2 linked regions of the Homo sapiens genome follow. The protein of the gene in region 1 interacts with the protein of each later gene in a pairwise test. Each region holds a gene or a part of one and is shown in the gene's direction. Other genes may lie near its edges.

Region 1 (5,011 bases):
CGATCTCGGCTCACTGCAATCTCCATCTCCTAGGTCCAAGCGATTCCCCTACCTCAGCCTCCTGAGTAGCTGGGTCTGCAGGCACATGCCACCACACCTAGCTAATTTTTTGTATTTTAGTTGAGACGGAGTTGCACCATGTTGGCCAGGATGGTCTCAATCTCCTGACCTTGTGTTCCGCCTGCCTCGGCCTCCCAAAATGCTGGGATTACAGGCGTGAGCCACTGCTCCCGGCCTAAATGGTTACTTTTTTACAATGAAAAATGAGGATTTCAGGTAGCTTAGAAAGAGAGAGGGAGAAACCAACAGGACAAAAAAACATTTATTCAGTTACTTTTTTTTTTTTTTGAGATGGAGTCTTGCTCTGTCGCCCAGGCTGGAGTACAGTGACGCAGTCTCAGCTCACTGCAACCTCCATCTCTCGGGTTCAAGCGATTCTCCTGCCACAGCCTCCCGAGTAGCTGGGATTACAGGCACCCGCCACATGCCCGGCTAATTTTTGTATTTTTAGTAGAGACGGGGTTTCGCCATATTGGCCAGGCTGGTCTTGAACTCCTGACCTCAGGTGACCCACCCGCCTCGGCCTCCCAAAGTGCTGGGTTTACAGGCGTGAGCCACCGTGCCCAGCCTAAGTGCCCTCTTTGTAAAGTCTGTCTTGTTCTACCTTTCCACACTACCTGGTATTAATTGGAAACTTTAAAGTACCCATTGATTGAAAATATACCCATCCTGGATACATTTTACACTGTATGATTATTTGTAATAGTGCTCCCAATTTTAGTAACAATTGTACAAAATAAAATGGACTCACATTCCAAAATCCTGAAAAGAAACTAAGCTATAAGAAAGTAAGAATTTAAGTTATAGGGAGTGGCTGGGCGCAGTGGCTCACACCTGTAATCTCAGCACTTTGGGAGGCCACGGCAGGCGGATCACCTGAAGTTGGGAGTTCGAGACCAGCCTGACCAACATGGAGAAACCGTCTCTACTAAAAATACAAAATTAGCCAGGTGTGGTGTCTCATGCCTGTAATCCCAGCTACTCCAGGAGTCTGAGGCAGAATTGCTTGAACCTGGGAGGCAGAGGTTGTGGTGAGCTGAGATCGTGCCATTGTGCTCCAGCCTGGGCAACAAGAGCAAAACTCCATCTCTAAATAAATAAATAAAAGAGAGAGAACAGCCGCATCAGGGTCCTGAGAGCACTACCTTTGGGAAACGCTCTTCAAATTTTAACTTTTTTTTTTTTAAATGTAATTTTAAAAATTATCAAAACAATATGGTTGCCTTTTAGAAATATTGGAAAATTGAGAAAAGAAAATTAAGTCACACCAGCCTACCACACGGTATAGCTACGGTCATAGCTGTATGAATCTCCTTTTACTTTTTCTGATGCTTATTATAACTAGTTTTAATAATAGCAAGTATATAATTTTGTATTTTATTTTTATAATTTAACATGTCAGTCACTTGTTGTTGCATTGTCTTCATAGCATTTGTTTGTTGGTTTGTTTTTTGAGATAGAGTCTTGCTCTGTCGCCCAGGCTGGAGTGCAGTGGTCTGACCTTGGCTCACTGCAACCTCCACCTCCTGGGTTCAAGGGATTCTCCTGCCTCAGTCTCCCGAGTAGCTGGGATTACAGGTGCCTGCGACCATGCTCAGCTAATTTTTGTATTTTTAGTAGAGAGGGGGTTTCACTATGTTGGCCAGGCTGGTCTCGAACTATTGACCTCAAGTGATCCACCTGCTTCAGCCTATCAAAGTGCTGGGATTACAGTTGTAAGCCACCACACCCAACCCTTCACAGCATATTTTGAAGTGACAGTGCCATATTTAATCAACCATTCCCTAATTGGGGGTGTGTGTGTGTGTATACATTGCTTCCAGTTGTTTATTACATAGGATAAGACGGACATCTTTGGACATAGCTCTATCCATATTTAAGATAGTTTTTTAGATTATTAGAGGTTGAAATACTGCATCAAAGCGTAGTATTTTTATGGGTTTTGATGCCTGTTGAGCTTGTTGTATTTTAAAAGAAGTGTTTCGGTTTGAATTCTTTATTTGCTTGCTTGTTGTGATTTTTTTTGTATATGTAAAGAAGTGTCTTTATGTACCTGTGTTTTCCCACTGCTCTTAATGCCCCCTCTCTCTTTTTTACCCCTATTCTAGGTTACATTGATTACCCACCTAGTACAACATCTTACGGGAAGAGCATAGTATTTCCTAGAGGAATATGAACATAACAGGAAGGTATCATTGGCTCTGAATTAAATTTGAACTTGTCCCCTGAATAGCTACAGGTTTTGGAAGCTGAATCAATGTTATCAGATGAGTTAGAATCCAAACCAGAGGTGAGCCCAGTCAGCTTGTTTCCTTTTCTTTTGGTGGGCTATATTTCAAAGTTTATCTTCAGTTTAGGGGGTCAGCAAACTTTTTCTTTAATGGGCCAGATAATAAATATTTTAGGTTTTTTAAGCTATATGGTTTTGATTGTTACTATTTTTTCAAAGATTTAAAAATTATATTTTTTGTGATTGTTTTTATATCTGTTTTTCAGTATATGTGAAATCATACATTTAGATAATGTAATAAAATCTTATAAATAAAAATATATGTTTATGTATAAATATATACATAAATATGAGATACATGTGATGTATAGGTGTATAAGTATATAAATATTTACTACTACAAATTCTTTTGTTTATTTTATATATATCTGTAAGTATTTTCTTTCTAAATGTGATTGGGGATTTAAACATTTTTTGTTGTTCACTTTTCTTACTTTAAATTTAGCACATCTGTGTTGCAGAGTGGTCACTGAATTTGGAATCAGATTACTTAAATTTGAGGATTGGCATTGCTCCTAACTAGTCTTGTGACCTTAGACAAGTCACTTAATGTCTTCAATTTTATTCCTCAGCTGTAAAATATGCCTTAAGTTTGGGTGCGGTGGCTCACGCCTGTAATCCCAGCACTTTGGGAGGCCGAGGCAGGTGGATCATGAGGTCAGGAGTTCAAGACCATCCTGCCTAACATGGTGAAACCCTGTCTCTACTAAAAATACAAAAAAAATTAGCTGGGCGTGGTGGCGGGCACCTGTAGTCCCAGCTACTTGGGAGGCTGAGGCAGGAGAATGGCGTGAACCCAGGAGGTGGAGCTTGCAGTGAGCCAAGATCATGCCACTGCACTCCAGCCTGGGCAACAGAGCAAGACTCTGTCTCAAAAAAAAATACATCTTAAATCTTACTGGGTTAATGCGATAATTAAATGAGCCAGTACACAGAAAAGTGTTTTGTAAAATGTAATCAATATGATGCAGTTGATTTTTTTTAAGCCATTATTTTAAAATGTAATTATTTTTATCATTTCTCTGTTTGACAGAAGGTGGCAGAGGTTAACTTAATTACAGTGAAGTGTCACTTAGCGATAGAGATACATTCTGAGAAATATGATGGTAGTTGATATCATTATTATGCGAACATGGTAGAGTATACTTACACAAACCTGTATGGTTTAGCCTGCTACACTCTAGGCTGTATGGTATACCTTATTGCCCCTAGGCTGCAAACCTATACAGCATGTTACTGTACTGAATACTGTAGGCAGTTGAAGCACAGTGGTAAACATTGTGTATCTAAACATATCTAAACGTGGAAAAAGTACAATAAAAATAGGATATTACAATCTCACAGGACCATCATCCTATATGTGGTCTGTTAACTGAAATGTCGTTTTGCAGCACATGACTTTATATAAATCAGCTGTTCTCTAGAACAGAGAACTTGATAAAATAACTTTAGATATTATGTTGTTTAGTTTTTGTTTGAATATGGATGAGACTAGTGAACAGTCTTAATATTATCTTTTGGTAAATTCAAAGGTTTAGATACATTTCTAACAACTCGTATTTCTCAGTGTTGTCTTTTCTCCCCCCAGCTCCTGGTACAGTTTGTTCAGAATACGTCCATCCCATTGGGACAGGGGCTTGTAGAATCAGAAGCTAAAGATATTACTTGCTTGTCCCTCCTTCCCGTGACTGAAGCCTCAGAATGCAGTCGGCTAATGTTACCAGGTAAAAATTAAGATCACTAGAAATAGGATAAAGAAGTCTTAAGAGCTTAGCCTACTCTATGTTACTGGTGGAATGAATATATCGTTTAATAACTGACTGGTGGAAACTGTAAAAATTAGGAGTCATGGAGAAAAAGCAACCATGAAATCATTAGTGCATTGGTAGTTTAAGCCATAGGAATGGATATGATCACCCAGAGAGTGTGAGAGTGGGGAAAAAAGGTCAGTGCAAAACTATGGAACTCTTTATTTAAGGTACAGGGTAGGGCAGGAGAACTTGTAAAGGAGGGAAGAAACAAAGACTAAAATAGTTGGATGAACATCAGCAGAGTGGAGGCATGAAACCCAGGAGAAATCATTGTATCAAATGCTACTGACAGGCCCAGTGAAATAGGGACTAAAAGGACTCCATTATTGACTTTGGCAGAACCTGTTCCATGGAGAGAAGAGGATGGAAAGTCAGGCTGCAGTGACTTGAGTATACATACTTGCTTTTTTTTTTTTTTTTGAGATGGAGTGTCACTCTGTCGCCCAGGCTGGAGTGTAGTGACGCAATCTTGGCTCACTGCAACCTCCGCCTCCCCTCCCAGGTTCAAGCTATTCTCCTGCCTCAGCCTCCTAAGTAGCTGGGATTACAGGTGCGTGCCACTATGCCTGGCTAATTTTTGCATTTTTAGTAGAAACGGGGTTTCACCATGTTGGCCAGGCTGGTCTTGAACTCCTGACCTCCAGTGATCAGTCCGCCTTGGCCTCCCAAAGTGCTGAGATTACAGGCGTGAGCCACTGCGCCAGGCCTATCAATACATACTTTCTAAAGTCTCTCCTGGTACGAGAAGGAAAAAGAGAAGGCGGTAAGATAGAGGGAAATTTTTTGTTTGTGTTAAGATCTGAGATATTTGAGGGTTGCTTTATGCTAAGGGGAAAGAACCAGTTAGAAA
Region 2 (5,011 bases), on another chromosome or scaffold:
CACAAGTAGAAGCACTGTCAGACTGGAAGGAGGTTTTTAAGGAGGTGGTCAGGAGTATTGAATTTTTATAAGAGATCCAATATAATGAAAATTGAAGGTCATTGGGTGTGTCAGAGGTAATGTCAGTAGAGCAGTGAGAAGGAAGTGGTAGAAACCAGATTACAAGTGGGTTAGGATGTAGCTACATTAGGTGAAAATGGGAAGCCAAGAAAATAGATCTTCTGTTTTCTGGTGAAAATATGTGCATGTGAAGCATTTTGTTTGTAACAGATAACTTTTTGCTTTAGTTATGATTTTATTAGTTTTTATCTGAACTTTTTATTGATAGTGATAGCTGGAACCATCTTCAGTGAAAATTGATTCGTTGAAATAAACTGAAGGCATTCCGAAGGAGGAGGGAAAAAAATACGTAAAAAGAAAAACAAAAAAGAAATAAACTGGAGCACTGCCCAGTGGTGGCGGAACTATGTCCTTTTTGGGAAATTCCTGTTCTCTCATATCACTAACTTCTTTAGTTTTGTATCTGGTGTTATAAGTGTGTATTACCAGCAATCCAAACAATGCCTTGTTGCAGGAACCCAAATTGGTTTCTGTAACAAAAGGAATGTTAAATTCCTTTGCATTGAGACTAAGGACTATACTTGATAGCTGATTTATTAACAGACCCAGAGTGTTTTTAGGTCAGTGTTTTCTTAGAATAGGCAAAGCTTTCTGTGTATTGAATCCTATGTAGTTTTATACTTACGGTGCTCTTCTCCTAAACCAGTGGTTCCCAAATTTTGAAAGTTTGGCTGCACATTACAATCACCTAGGGAACTTAGAAAACTCTTGATGCCCATGTTGCACTCATTGTCAATTAAATCAGAATACCAGGGGTGGAAGCGGGTAGTGGGAGCCAGGCATCTATATATATATATTTTTCATAGCTCACCTAGTGATTCCAAGGTGCAGCAAGATTTGGGAGACATTGCCGTAACCTCTTAAAATATTTTTTTTTCAGATTAATGACACTGAGTTCTTCTACTGGAGAGAGTTGGTTTCTAAATGCCTAGCCGAGTATTCTTCTCCTGAATGTTGCAAACCAGATCTTAAGAAGTTGGTTTGGATCGTTTCAAGGCGCACAGCCCAGAACCTCCACAACAGCTACTATAGTGTTCCTGAGCTGCCAACGATACCTGAGGGGGGTTGTTTTGATGAAAGTGAAAGGTAGGCAGGTTCCTTGACTAATTAAACTTCCCTAGACTAAATATTACTGAGTTTATTATACTCAGAACTGGAATAGTGTAAGACATCAGAGAAAGCAAGCACCTACACTAAGAGCTAAGAATTAAAGCCCCCACTCTTCAGGTAAGCAAATTAACCAGAAGTAGTATTTTAATATGTAATGATTTATAAGGTCCTCTCCAATTTTTTTAGTTTTTTTCTTTTTTATATTTTTTTGAGTAGAGATAGGGTCTCGCGATGTTGCCCAGGGCTGGTCTTACATACTCCCAGGCTCAAGTGATCCTCCTGCCTCAGCCTCCGAAGTGCTGAGATTACAGGTGTGAGCCACTGCACTCGGCCTCTTTTCCCTTTTTAAAGTGGTTGTTTTCCATCTTTCTCCTATTTCCCTTGCTCTTGAAATACAGCTAAAAAACCCCAAAAAAACAAAACTGAAAAAGAATTCTGGGCTTTGTAATGTTAGTATGAATTCCTAATATTGTGCTGTGGTGAAGAGATTGAGGGGTAGGTGCCTGGAAAATAAAGGGAATCACCACCACTGATGGGGAAGACTTCTATATATGTTCTCAGAGGTTTGTCAATTGGTGTTGTCTTATTCAGAATTTGATTACTTTGTTTGTAAAGTGAATAACTTTGCTAAATTTGTTTGTTTTATGCCGTAGAGATAAAGGGCCAGAAGTTTCATTTTCATAGCTTGTTAGTTTACTTTGATATTTGACAGTGTAAGTGGTATAATAAATCACTGATGCAAGAAATACATCTAAATAGACCATATGCTAGGAGGTATGTTGTTTTTAGTCTTCATTACTGGATTTAAAATACTTAGAATTCTACAATTCTAATACTTGCTGATAGTTATTAATTGGTACAAGAATAATAGTTTGGCAAATAGTAACTTGTTTAAACTTAAGAAAACCTATATTTTCTTTCTTTCTTTCTTTTTTTTTTTGCATGTGCCACCATGCCCAGCTAATTTTTGTATTAATATTTTTTGTAGAGATGGGATTTTGCCATGTTGCCCAGGCTAGTCTTGAACTCCTGGGATTAAGCGATCTGCACACTTCGGCCTCCCAAAGTGCTAGGATGACAGGGATGAGCCACTGCACCCAGTCCAAAAAATCTATATTTTCCAATGAGATTACTATAGACTTCATTTAGGAAGTCCTTATAAATTTTGTCTCTGTAAAGCATAAATTTTGAATATAAAAATCCTCACTAGAGATATAGCAGCTTTATTTTGGCTATAAAACATTTAAGTGTGTTTTAAGTAATGGTATCCTCTTTTTTTGTCTCTTTTTCTCTTTAGTGAGGACTCTTGTGAAGATATGAGTTGTGGAGAGGAGAGTCTCAGCAGCTCTCCTCCCAGTGATCAAGAGTGCACCTTCTTTTTCAACTTCAAAGTGGCACAAACACTGTGCTTTCCATCTTAGAAATCTGATTGTTCTGTCAGAATTTATATTTACAGGTTTCAAAGCAATAAATGGGGGAATAGGTAGTTTCCTGGTTTAGCCCCCATCTAGTCAGGAATTAATATACTGGAATACCTACCTTCTATTTGTTATTCAGATCAGATCTGGCCTATTTTCATATTTATCCTAAGCCATCAAATGGGGTAGTGCCTCTTAAACCATTAACAGTACTTTAGACATTGGCACTTTATTTTTCTCGTAGATCTTTAGCTACTTTGGGGAGGAGGGAAGGTGCTGATACCTTCAATTTGTTACTTTTCAAGATTTTTAAAAATAACTAGTGTAGCTTATCTTAAACATTTTATAAAACCTTCAGATGTCTTTAAGCAGATTGGAAGTATGCAAGTGCTTCCTTAGCAGGGACAGTGGATAATCCTTAATGGTTTATCATAGATTTCACCCTCCCCCCTTCTCAGAAGAGTGAGTATGCTCTTAAATGTCAAACACATTTTTGTTGTTTTGTTTTTTAAATGATCAGTGTCTATTTGATGTGATGCAGATCTTATAAATTTGGGAATTATAATATTGACATTTCTGTGATTTTTATATATGTAATGTCTTAATTGAGATTTCTGTTAAGGCAGAAATAATTAGGCTAGGGCTCTTAGTTTTCATTCCTATTGCCCAAGTATTGTCAAACTATGGTATTATTTTAATGTTACTTTAAAAATCCATAATCTGCTAGTTTTGCATGTACTTATATGAAAACAGTGCAGTAAGTTGAAAACTCAGTATCTATGGAATTGATAAATGTTGATCTGGTGTAGTATATTTTATCGCATTTTCTTATATTAAAAAATGTCTGCATGATTACATTTTATTTCCTTTGTAATTTACATTTCAGAATAGTGTATTGCTATATGGGTGCCAAGATTGAATATGAAGAACCCGAGTGTTTGTAGTATTATAGTTTTAAGCAAATCTGTGTGGTGATACAGCCATAAGAATGGGGCTTATATAAACTCTGTACATGTAAGATTTTGTACAGAGAATTTTTAACTTTATAAATTGTATATGAACATGTAAATCTTTTAAAATGTACATAAAATACTGTATTTTTTTACCTTGTGTGTGATAGTCTAGTCATTGCATGTAAATATAATTTATTATGTATTCTGTAGTATAAATCATACATTGATGACTTACATTTTTACTGGTAAGTCAACATCCGTTGGATGTTTTCTGAAGTGGCTCTTTTTGAAGTGATAATAGATTGTAATTCAAAATAAAATTATTAATGAATTCTCCTTGTTTGGGATCACATCTTAATTTTTAATCTGTTAAAAGTTCTTGATGTATTTTAATGAGAAGACTTTAGGTGAGGCTACAGTGATTCCAGAGTGAGCCTTCTAACTGGCTAGCAGAAGTTCTCTAGGTTTGGCATCTGTGCCTTGGAGATACTGAAAGAGAATCTGTCATTTGACAATTGACCTCTTTGTGGGATGGACTCATTAAGTATGCTCTCAGAGACTGGTATATTACCAGAATGCCTATTAATTTTCAGTGAGAGGCAACAGGTATTAAGTAGAACAGAATGCTCAGGTTGGCAGATTAGAACGATCTTTCAGGAGACAAAGCAAGTTTTAATCAGTTGTTTGGTTAATAAGTATGGGGTGTTCGCTGTGATAGGGCCCCGCCAGCTTCTGGCTCTTGTGGACCTCAAAAGTATCAGGTGGTTTTGCAAGTGGTGGTCCTTTCCCCTGCCCCACCCCAATAGGTTCCCCATCTGTCTAGTTTGATTTTTGTAGACCTTTGTTTTCTCTAGTTAGAAAATCAGGTACACTGAATATGGTTTTCATGTAACACCTCTTCTCTGGAGATAGGGGTATGTTTTCCTACCCTTCTAGTGGAGAATCCTACTTGAGGATGACCTTTCCTCTCTTACTAAATAATATTAGTAAATAGTGGGCAATATATTCTGCTTTCAGATTTTGATTTGTTGAGATGTAAAAGTTGTTTGGGGCTTACCAAATCTCAAGACTCTCTTTAGCTCCTGCAGGATTGTATTGCTTTTCTTACTGGATATTTTTCCTGGGTAAGCATCTTTGTGGCTTCATCTCTTCCCCCTGTGGTTTTCAGTGTATTTAGTCGAGACCTCTCTGCTGAGCTTGCAACCTGTTTATTCACATGGCCTGCCATGCCACTTGGAGGTTTCTGATTACTCCCAAACCTGCTGGTTCTTTATGTCTTTCTCAGCGAATAATTCCATCTATTCATGTTGGAAACTTAGGTGATATGCTCATCTCCTTTTGCCTGTTTATGGAGGTCACCAGCCTCTATCATTTGTATGATTTCGTTTACACTGTTTATATCTCTCTGTC

Evidence for each region.
Region 2: the proteins of ZNF410 (region 1) and CCNG2 interact in a two-hybrid assay, tested with the Homo sapiens proteins (one large-scale study listed by BioGRID).

The regions. Positions count from the first base shown.
Region 1 is NC_000014.9:73,889,859-73,894,869, forward strand, and holds part of ZNF410 (zinc finger protein 410), read left to right. Parts: intron 1-2,168; 5' UTR 2,169-2,317; coding exon 2,318-2,350; intron 2,351-3,938; coding exon 3,939-4,074; intron 4,075-4,500; coding exon of another isoform or gene 4,501-4,551; intron 4,552-5,011. UniProt on the Homo sapiens protein: Transcription factor that binds to the sequence motif 5'-CATCCCATAATA-3', and is specifically required to silence expression of fetal hemoglobin in adult erythroid cells.
Region 2 is NC_000004.12:77,163,274-77,168,284, forward strand, and holds part of CCNG2 (cyclin-G2), read left to right. Parts: intron 1-1,000; coding exon 1,001-1,206; intron 1,207-2,527; coding exon 2,528-2,651; 3' UTR 2,652-5,011. UniProt on the Homo sapiens protein: May play a role in growth regulation and in negative regulation of cell cycle progression.